2 linked regions of the Homo sapiens genome follow. The protein of the gene in region 1 interacts with the protein of each later gene in a pairwise test. Each region holds a gene or a part of one and is shown on either strand. Other genes may lie near its edges.

Region 1 (3,750 bases):
GAGGCATGAGCCTGAAAAAACTCTTGAAATACAGACATCTGTGAGTCATTAACTCTGCCTGAGAAGAAACCAGGGACAGCTTCTCAAAGGAGGTGGCATTGCACCAGGGTCTTGAAAGATTTTCTCAGAATATTAGAGCTAAAGGAATATATACATTTTTTTATTTTGGGGTTGGTGTGGGCTGCTCTGGAGGCCAAGCCTGGAGATCAGGGACCTGGGAAGGGGCCCTGAGAGGGGCAGAAGGGAGGAATGTGCCTGGGCGCAGTGGCCACGCCTGTAATCCCAGCACTTCAGGAGGCCGAGGCGGGCAGATCGCTTGAGGTCAGGAGTTCGAGACCAGCCTGGCCAACATGGCGAAACCCCATCTCTATTATAAATACAAAAATTAGCTCGGCATGGTGGCGGGTGCTGTAATCCCAGCTACTCAGGAGGCTGAGGCAGGAGAATCACTTGAACCCAGGAGGCGGAGGTTGCAGTGAGCTGAGACCGCAGCATTGCACTCCAGCCTGGGTGACAGAGTGACACTCAGTTTCAAAAACAAACAAACAAACAACAACAACAAAAAAAAACAGGGATGGGAGGTGGGGAGCAATTTGGGAGTCTCAGATGGAGACTTGGTCTTAGAACTCAGAAATCCCCACCTTGAGGAACCCACGCACCCTGAGCCAGCAGCCTCATCAGCCTCGAAGCATTTATTGAGCACTGCCTGTACATCCACAGGAGGGTGATGACAGGATTGGCACAGTGACCGTCCTGTCCCCTTGTTGGGGGTCTCTCCTCTTCCCCCTCTAGGAGCTGAGGGAGCTGAGGAGCGGCATGAGGGACAGGGAGGGGGCGGCAGAGCTTCCTGGGGCCTCAAGGACAATCCTTTCCTGTACCCATTCTTCAGATGGGGAAACTGAGGCCATGGAGGCGTTAGGACGCCCTGAGTCACCCAGCAGGGACTGAAGGGGTTCTGGGTGGAGGTTAGGACATCTTAGGCTCAGTGCCCGGGGATCACGTACTCCTCTTCATCCATTGGGGCCTGGCCCAGTGACTGCAGGTTACAGTAGACAGGCTGGGAAGCCAGGTCGATGTCCTTGTAGTTGATGTAAAAGTCATTGTCCTCTGAAGGGTGAGCCCTGGGGGGACAGACAGACCAGGGGTAAGTGTGGGAGGGGGAGGACTCAGGGGACAGGCACATGAGCTTTGAGAAAGTCCAGAGTGGGCCAGGTGCTCTGACTCACGCCTGTAATCCAGCACTTTGGGAGGCTGAGGTGGGTGGATCACCTGAGATCATGAGTTCAAGACCAGCCTGGACAACATGATGAAACCTCGTCTCTACTAAAAATACAAAAATTATCCAGGCATGGTGGCACAGGCCTGTAGTCCCAGCTACTCGGGAGTCTGAGGCAGGAGAATCACTTGAACCCAGGAGGTAGAGGTTGTAGTGAGCCGAGATCGTGCCATTGCACTTCAGCCTGGGAGACAGAGCAAGACTCTATCTCAGAAGGAAAAAAAAAAAGAAAGCTTCAGAGTGGCTCAGTCCACCCCGAATATTTACATATGGGGAAACTGGCACGGGCTAGCGTTCTGACTCCTAGCCAACCCCACCTCTCTCTGAGGAGGCTGCGGGAGGGCAGTGATTTAGGGAAGGTTCTGTGGGTGTAACGCTGCGGTCTGAGGACCCTGAACCCTTTTTCCTTCCTTAAAAATGAGATAGCGGCCAGGCGCGGTGACTCATGCCTGTAATCCCAGCACTTTGGGAGGCCAAGGCAGAAGGTCTGCTTGAGGCCAGGAGTTTGAGACCATCCTGAGCAACAGGGTGAGACCCCATCTCTACAAAAAATTAAAAAATTATTCAGGCGTGGTGACGTGTGCCTGGAGTCCCATCTCCTCGGGAGGCTGAGGTGGGAGGACCGCTTGAGCCCAGGAGGTCGAGCCTACAGTGAGCCGTTATCACACCACTGCACTGCAGCCTGGATGACAGAGGGAGACCCCGTCTCAAAAAAAACAGAAATTGAGGTAGCTGTTCATTATTACATTAAAATCTAAATTTTTGTTTCCTCTTGAAAAATCGGAAGCTCTGGCCACGTCAGTCACATGCACACAAGTGGCTGCACCCACACTCTGTGCTCCTTCCGATGGGAAATGTTTTCACCACTGAAGCAACTGACTTTGTGGCCCTCATATATAAAAGCAAGTCTCTGAGCCTCAGTTTCTGCATCTATAGAATTGGTCAAGGAGCAGGTAGCTACTTAGGAATATTTGTTATGGTCAGCAAGACCTCCAGAGAATTTTCCTGCCTCCTGAACATTCTAATTCCAACCCAGCTCCTCTTGTAAAAAGGGCCACTGGGCCAGGTGCGGTGGCTCACGCCTATAATCCCAGCACTTTGAGAGGCCAAGGTGGGCAGATCACCTGAGGTCAGGAGTTCAAGACCAGCCTGGCCAACATGGCAAAACCCCGTCTCTACTAAAATTAGCCGGGTGTGATGGTGGGCGCCTGTAATCCCAGCTACTCGGGAGGCTGAGGCAGGAGGCAGGAGAATCACTTGAACCCGGGAGGTGAAGGTTGCAGTGAGCCGAGATCATGCCATTGCACTCTAGCCTGGGCGACAGAGCGGGAAAAAAAAAAAGGCAAAAGGGCTACTTTGTGTTAACAGCATCTATCAGTCAATTATACTCTAGTACGAATTGCCCACCAACCCCTAAGTGGTTGTAGGGGGACGAACAGGTCTGGGACGCAGGGTTTGTGTCCTGCCTTTTTTGACTGGCTATGTGACCTTGGACAAGTCATTTCCCTGCCTCCCAGAGCCTCCATGTCTGTAACTGTAAGATGCAGGGTGGAAATGACACAGTCAATTCTAAACACAGTGTTTCTGGAGGCCAGTACATAAAGGAGGCTGATCCGGAAGCCTCGGGGACAGGGAGGCCAAGATGAACATCAGAGCACAAGCTGCTTTTGCGAGTCCAGTGTCTTCAACACCCTGCCTCAGACCATTTCTGCTTTTGAGCCATGTTGACATCTGCTTTGCATATTTTCTCCTTTCTCACCAACAGCCTTCCGATAGCCTCCCCACCTCCTGGCACGGACTCTGCTGCCCAAACACAGCCATGGCCGCGGCCCCTTCCTGCTTGGCCCTCCCTGTTCCCCTCAGGCCTCAGCTTTCAAGTCATCCCTTCTCAAAAACCATTCACAGCAAATTCTCTGTTCTTTCCCACCTCTGGGTCTCTGCCCCTGAGGGTCCCACCCCTTGAAATTCCCTCCATTCCCTTTTCCAACCTAGAAAAGCTTTTCTTTTCTTTTTTTCTTTCTTTCTTTCTTTTTTTTTTTTTTTGAGACGGAGTCTCGCTCTGTCGCCCAGGCTGGGGTGCAGTGGTGCGATCTGGGCTCACTGCAACCTCCACCTCCTGGGTTCAAGTGATTCTTCTTGCCTCAGCCTCCCAAGTAGCTGGGATTACAGGCACCCACGACCATGCCCGGCTAATTTTTGTATTTTTAGTAGAGACAGGGTTTCACCATATTGGCCAGGCTGGTCTCGAACTCCTGACCTCGTGATCCTCCTGCCTTGGCCTCCCAAAGTGTTGGGATTACAGGCATGAGCCACCGTGCCCGGCCTAATTTTTGTATTTTTTAGTAGAAACAGGGTTCCACCATGTTGGTCAGGCTGGTCTTGAGGTCCTGACCACAGGTGATCTGACCTCGCCTTGGCCTCGAAAAGTGCTGGGATTATAGGCATGAGCCACCGCACCCCACACCAACCTAGAA
Region 2 (3,650 bases), on another chromosome or scaffold:
ATTTTATAATTTTTTTTCTTAAAAGACGGGATCTTACTATTTTGCACAGGCTGGCCAAATCTGCCCTCAGGTGATCCTTCGACCTCAGCCTCCCAAAGCTCTGGGATTACAGACATGAGCCCCTATGCCTAGCCAGATTTTCCATTTTAAAGTGTGGCATTTAGCACGTTCATGATGTTATGAACCGTCACGTTTCTAAAACATTTTCATCACCCCAAAAGGAAACCCCATATTCATTAAGCAGTTGTTCATTCCCTTCTCCCTGCCAATCCTCGGCAACCACTGATCTGCTTTCTGCCCCCATAAATTTATCTATTCTGGATTTTCCTAAAAATTGAATAATTCAATATGTGTTCTTTTGTGTCTGGCTTCTTTCACTTAGCATGTTTTAGAGGTTCGTCCTCTAAATCAGCAGGTATCAGTACTTCATTCCTTTTTAAGGGTGAGTAATATTCCATTCTATATTCCATTCATATACACCACATTACATATATATCATTTCGTTGATACGTACTGCATTTTGTTTATTCATTTGTTAAATTTTTGTGTGCTATTCAGAAAGTTATATGAACATCTCTAAATTGATTTTCGTCATAATCTCTACAAGGCTTGCTAAGGTAGTGTTATGGTGTCAGGTGTGCTACCTAACATATCATTCATTACTTGCAGTTAAGTGATTGTTAAATGAGTTTTGAAAGACGCAAGGTCAACAAAAATGGATTTTTAAGTTGGTTCAGTTGATACGTGGTGTGGTTTGGTTCTGCGTCCCCACTCAAATCTCATCTCAAATTGTAATCCCTGTGTGTCGAGGGAGGGAAGTGATTGCATCATGAGGGCGGCTTCCCCCATGTTGTTCTCGTGACAGTGAGTTCTTACAAGATCTGATGGTTTTACAAATGGAAGTTTTTCCTGCACTCTCTCTCTTCTCTCTCCTGCTGCCTTGTGAAAAAGGTGTCTGTTTCCCCTTAGCCTTCCTCCATGATTGTAAGTTTCCTGACACCTCCCCAGCCATGTGGGACTGTGAGTCAGTTAAACTTCTTTCCTTTATAGGTTACCCAGTCTTGGGTATTTCTTTATAACAGTGCAAAAACGGACTAATACAATACGTTTTCACAAAATTTTACAATAGAAGCATCTTTAGAGTTTATTTGAACAAACAATTCATGAATTGAGCAGCTCCAAACCAGATCTGGGAGCTCCACCAGGGGAATCCAGGAGGGAGGCTTTTATAGGAGGGTCACAGATGTAAAGCAAAGAAAATATTTGATTGGCTGCAGTTATACAGTTGTTTTATTTGGTCTGTCGTGTTGGAAGGTCCCCTAGATATGTAATTAGAAGTTTGTTGGATGTTTCTGATTGATTAAGCTTAAGTTCTCTTTTTCTTTAGCATAGGCATTTATAAGAAGTAACTTCATATTTTGCTTATGTTTGCAAATCAAGTGAGGTTGATGTCACTTATGAGGCCTAATTGGTTTTGTCTGCTCGGGGATTCTTCAGGCATGGTTTCCATTTTAATTTACTTCAGCAGTGCTAATTCTCATTCAGTTTTTGTGGTACAAATGGTGTGCCAATACTGCATTTCATCCAGGACCCTTGGGCGATGGAACCATTCTGTTTCTCCATGTCTTCATTTGGAGGGTGTGACTGATGGAATTATGTCTACCCTGGTGCACTTAAATTCTGCAGACTACTTCAAAACAGCATAAGTAGAGTGGATACCTAAGGGAATTCTTAAACACGTAGAACAGGAACCTATAACTTCTCATCTAGTACAATGTGAGATAGTTACATGAGATGAAGATAGCAGTTCTACTGTATGTAAATGTGTACCTTTCTCTAATCTCATTTTAGCAGTTTATGAGTGGGACACTTCATTACCCCATTTATGTTCAACCTCTAACAGTTAATATATTTCATTTTATTGTTGTCATTGTTTCTAAGAATAGCTATTTCTTTCTGTCCATCCATTCATTCATCTATCCATCTCTCCCTGGATGGTGTACTATAGGATTAAGGTAGCTTAGATCACAAGTGTTTAAACAATTGTAGAACTCATAGCAGGCAAAACTGAATGTCATTTTGTAGAGTTCTGTCTTGTTTTCTGTTTTGGGTATGTTTGTGGTCTTGGTTGCAGAAATCCAGTCACCATTTCATTTCGTTAAGTGGATTATAACTTTTTAAGCAAAATTCTGCTTTGGTAGATAATAAAAACTGCAAGAAAACATTTGAGTAATATTAAATCTAGTACTCTGGTTTAACCCCTGCAAACAGGAGTTCTTGATTATTTATTCCTCACCACATTTTCTCTGGATTTATCTGTTGCCCACCAAAACTGAAGACCCATTCTGGTGGCAGGTTGACTGTTCCAGAAAGAATGAAAAATCTTGTCATGTGAATTTTACTTTTGAACTTTTTTGGTTTAGATCTGCCTTACCTTCCCCCCCCCCCCCCCCCCCGCCCCACACAGCCTTTCCTGTGTGTGTGGATTGGTGTGCTGTAGATCTGAAGCTCTCAGATCTGAGCACGAATGACAGTCATCTGGGGAGCTTATTAAACATGCAAGAGCTTTAATCCCACTCCTAGGGATTCTGATTCTCCAGGTATGCAGTTGGCTCAGGAGTTTGCATTTTAAAAAACACACTAGTAATTCTGGTGTGCATGCTATAGGTAACCCTGTAGTAAGAGGTTCAAAGAACATATGATGTTTCATTGAATCTATGACGCCACAGATGGTAAGGGTCAGAATCTGGTAGCTTTCAGCTGCATGACTCCTAAGCCCTAATTTCCAATCTTGTGGCTAATTTGTTAGTCCTACAAAGGCAGTCTAGTCCCCAGGCAAGAAGGAGGTTTGTTTTGGGAAAGGGCTGTTACCATCTTTGTTTTAAACTATAAACTAAGTTCCTCCCAAAGTTATGGCCTATGCCCAGGAATGAACAAGGACAACCTGGAGGTTAGAAGCAAGATGGAGTTGGTTAGGTCAGATCTTTTTCACCATTTCAGTTATAATTTTGCAATGGTGGTTTCACTACTAAGAAATAAAAATGTGGTTGTAAGCCTTATCCTGAGTTTAGTTAAAATGAGGGAAGCAAGATGCAAAATGAGTTTAGTTAAAATAAATAGGGTATTAAGTGCCTGGCAACCAGAGGTTCCTCTTATTATCTTAACAGGTTATTATGAAGCATAGCAGATATGAGATTTTAAAAAATTACAAAGCAACAGTTCTTCAGATCTTTTACCATATAAATTATTTGATTGCAATGAGGAGTTTATATAAGGTGTCCTTAGTTGACATCTATTTGTAATGAAAATTGTACTGATGACTTTGTTTTAAAATGCAACTTAGGTGTATATGGGGGTGTAATAGACTCCAGTTTGGCCCCATATTAATTTCATCCTACTCATTTCCAGTCATTTAGATGTTGCTGGCTCAGTTCAGAAGTCTGATTTCTATCCTCCTTGTACTTCAGTGATTCCTGTTTTGTAATTATAGTCCACTGAAATAGTAAGGTGTGGCATAATCATTTGATGTCTACCTTTTTTTTTTTTTGCCACTTTCCTGTTAGAGAGTCCACAGCCCTCATTAATGCCAGCTAGGTGATTATACACATATATACCAGCCGCATAGCATCTTGTACTGAGTAGTGGTAGGA

The links.
Region 2: the proteins of LRRC25 (region 1) and FAM3C interact in binary tests that used the Homo sapiens proteins (3 or more experiments, as listed by UniProt).

Annotation. Positions count from the first base shown.
Region 1 is NC_000019.10:18,391,005-18,394,754, forward strand, and holds the end of LRRC25 (leucine-rich repeat-containing protein 25 precursor), read right to left. Parts: intron 1,122-3,750; coding exon 983-1,121; 3' UTR 133-982; downstream 1-132. UniProt on the Homo sapiens protein: Plays a role in the inhibition of RLR-mediated type I interferon signaling pathway by targeting RIGI for autophagic degradation.
Region 2 is NC_000007.14:121,389,660-121,393,309, reverse strand, and holds part of FAM3C (protein FAM3C precursor), read left to right. Parts: intron 1-382; exon of another isoform or gene 383-442; intron 443-1,948; exon of another isoform or gene 1,949-3,650. UniProt on the Homo sapiens protein: May be involved in retinal laminar formation. Promotes epithelial to mesenchymal transition.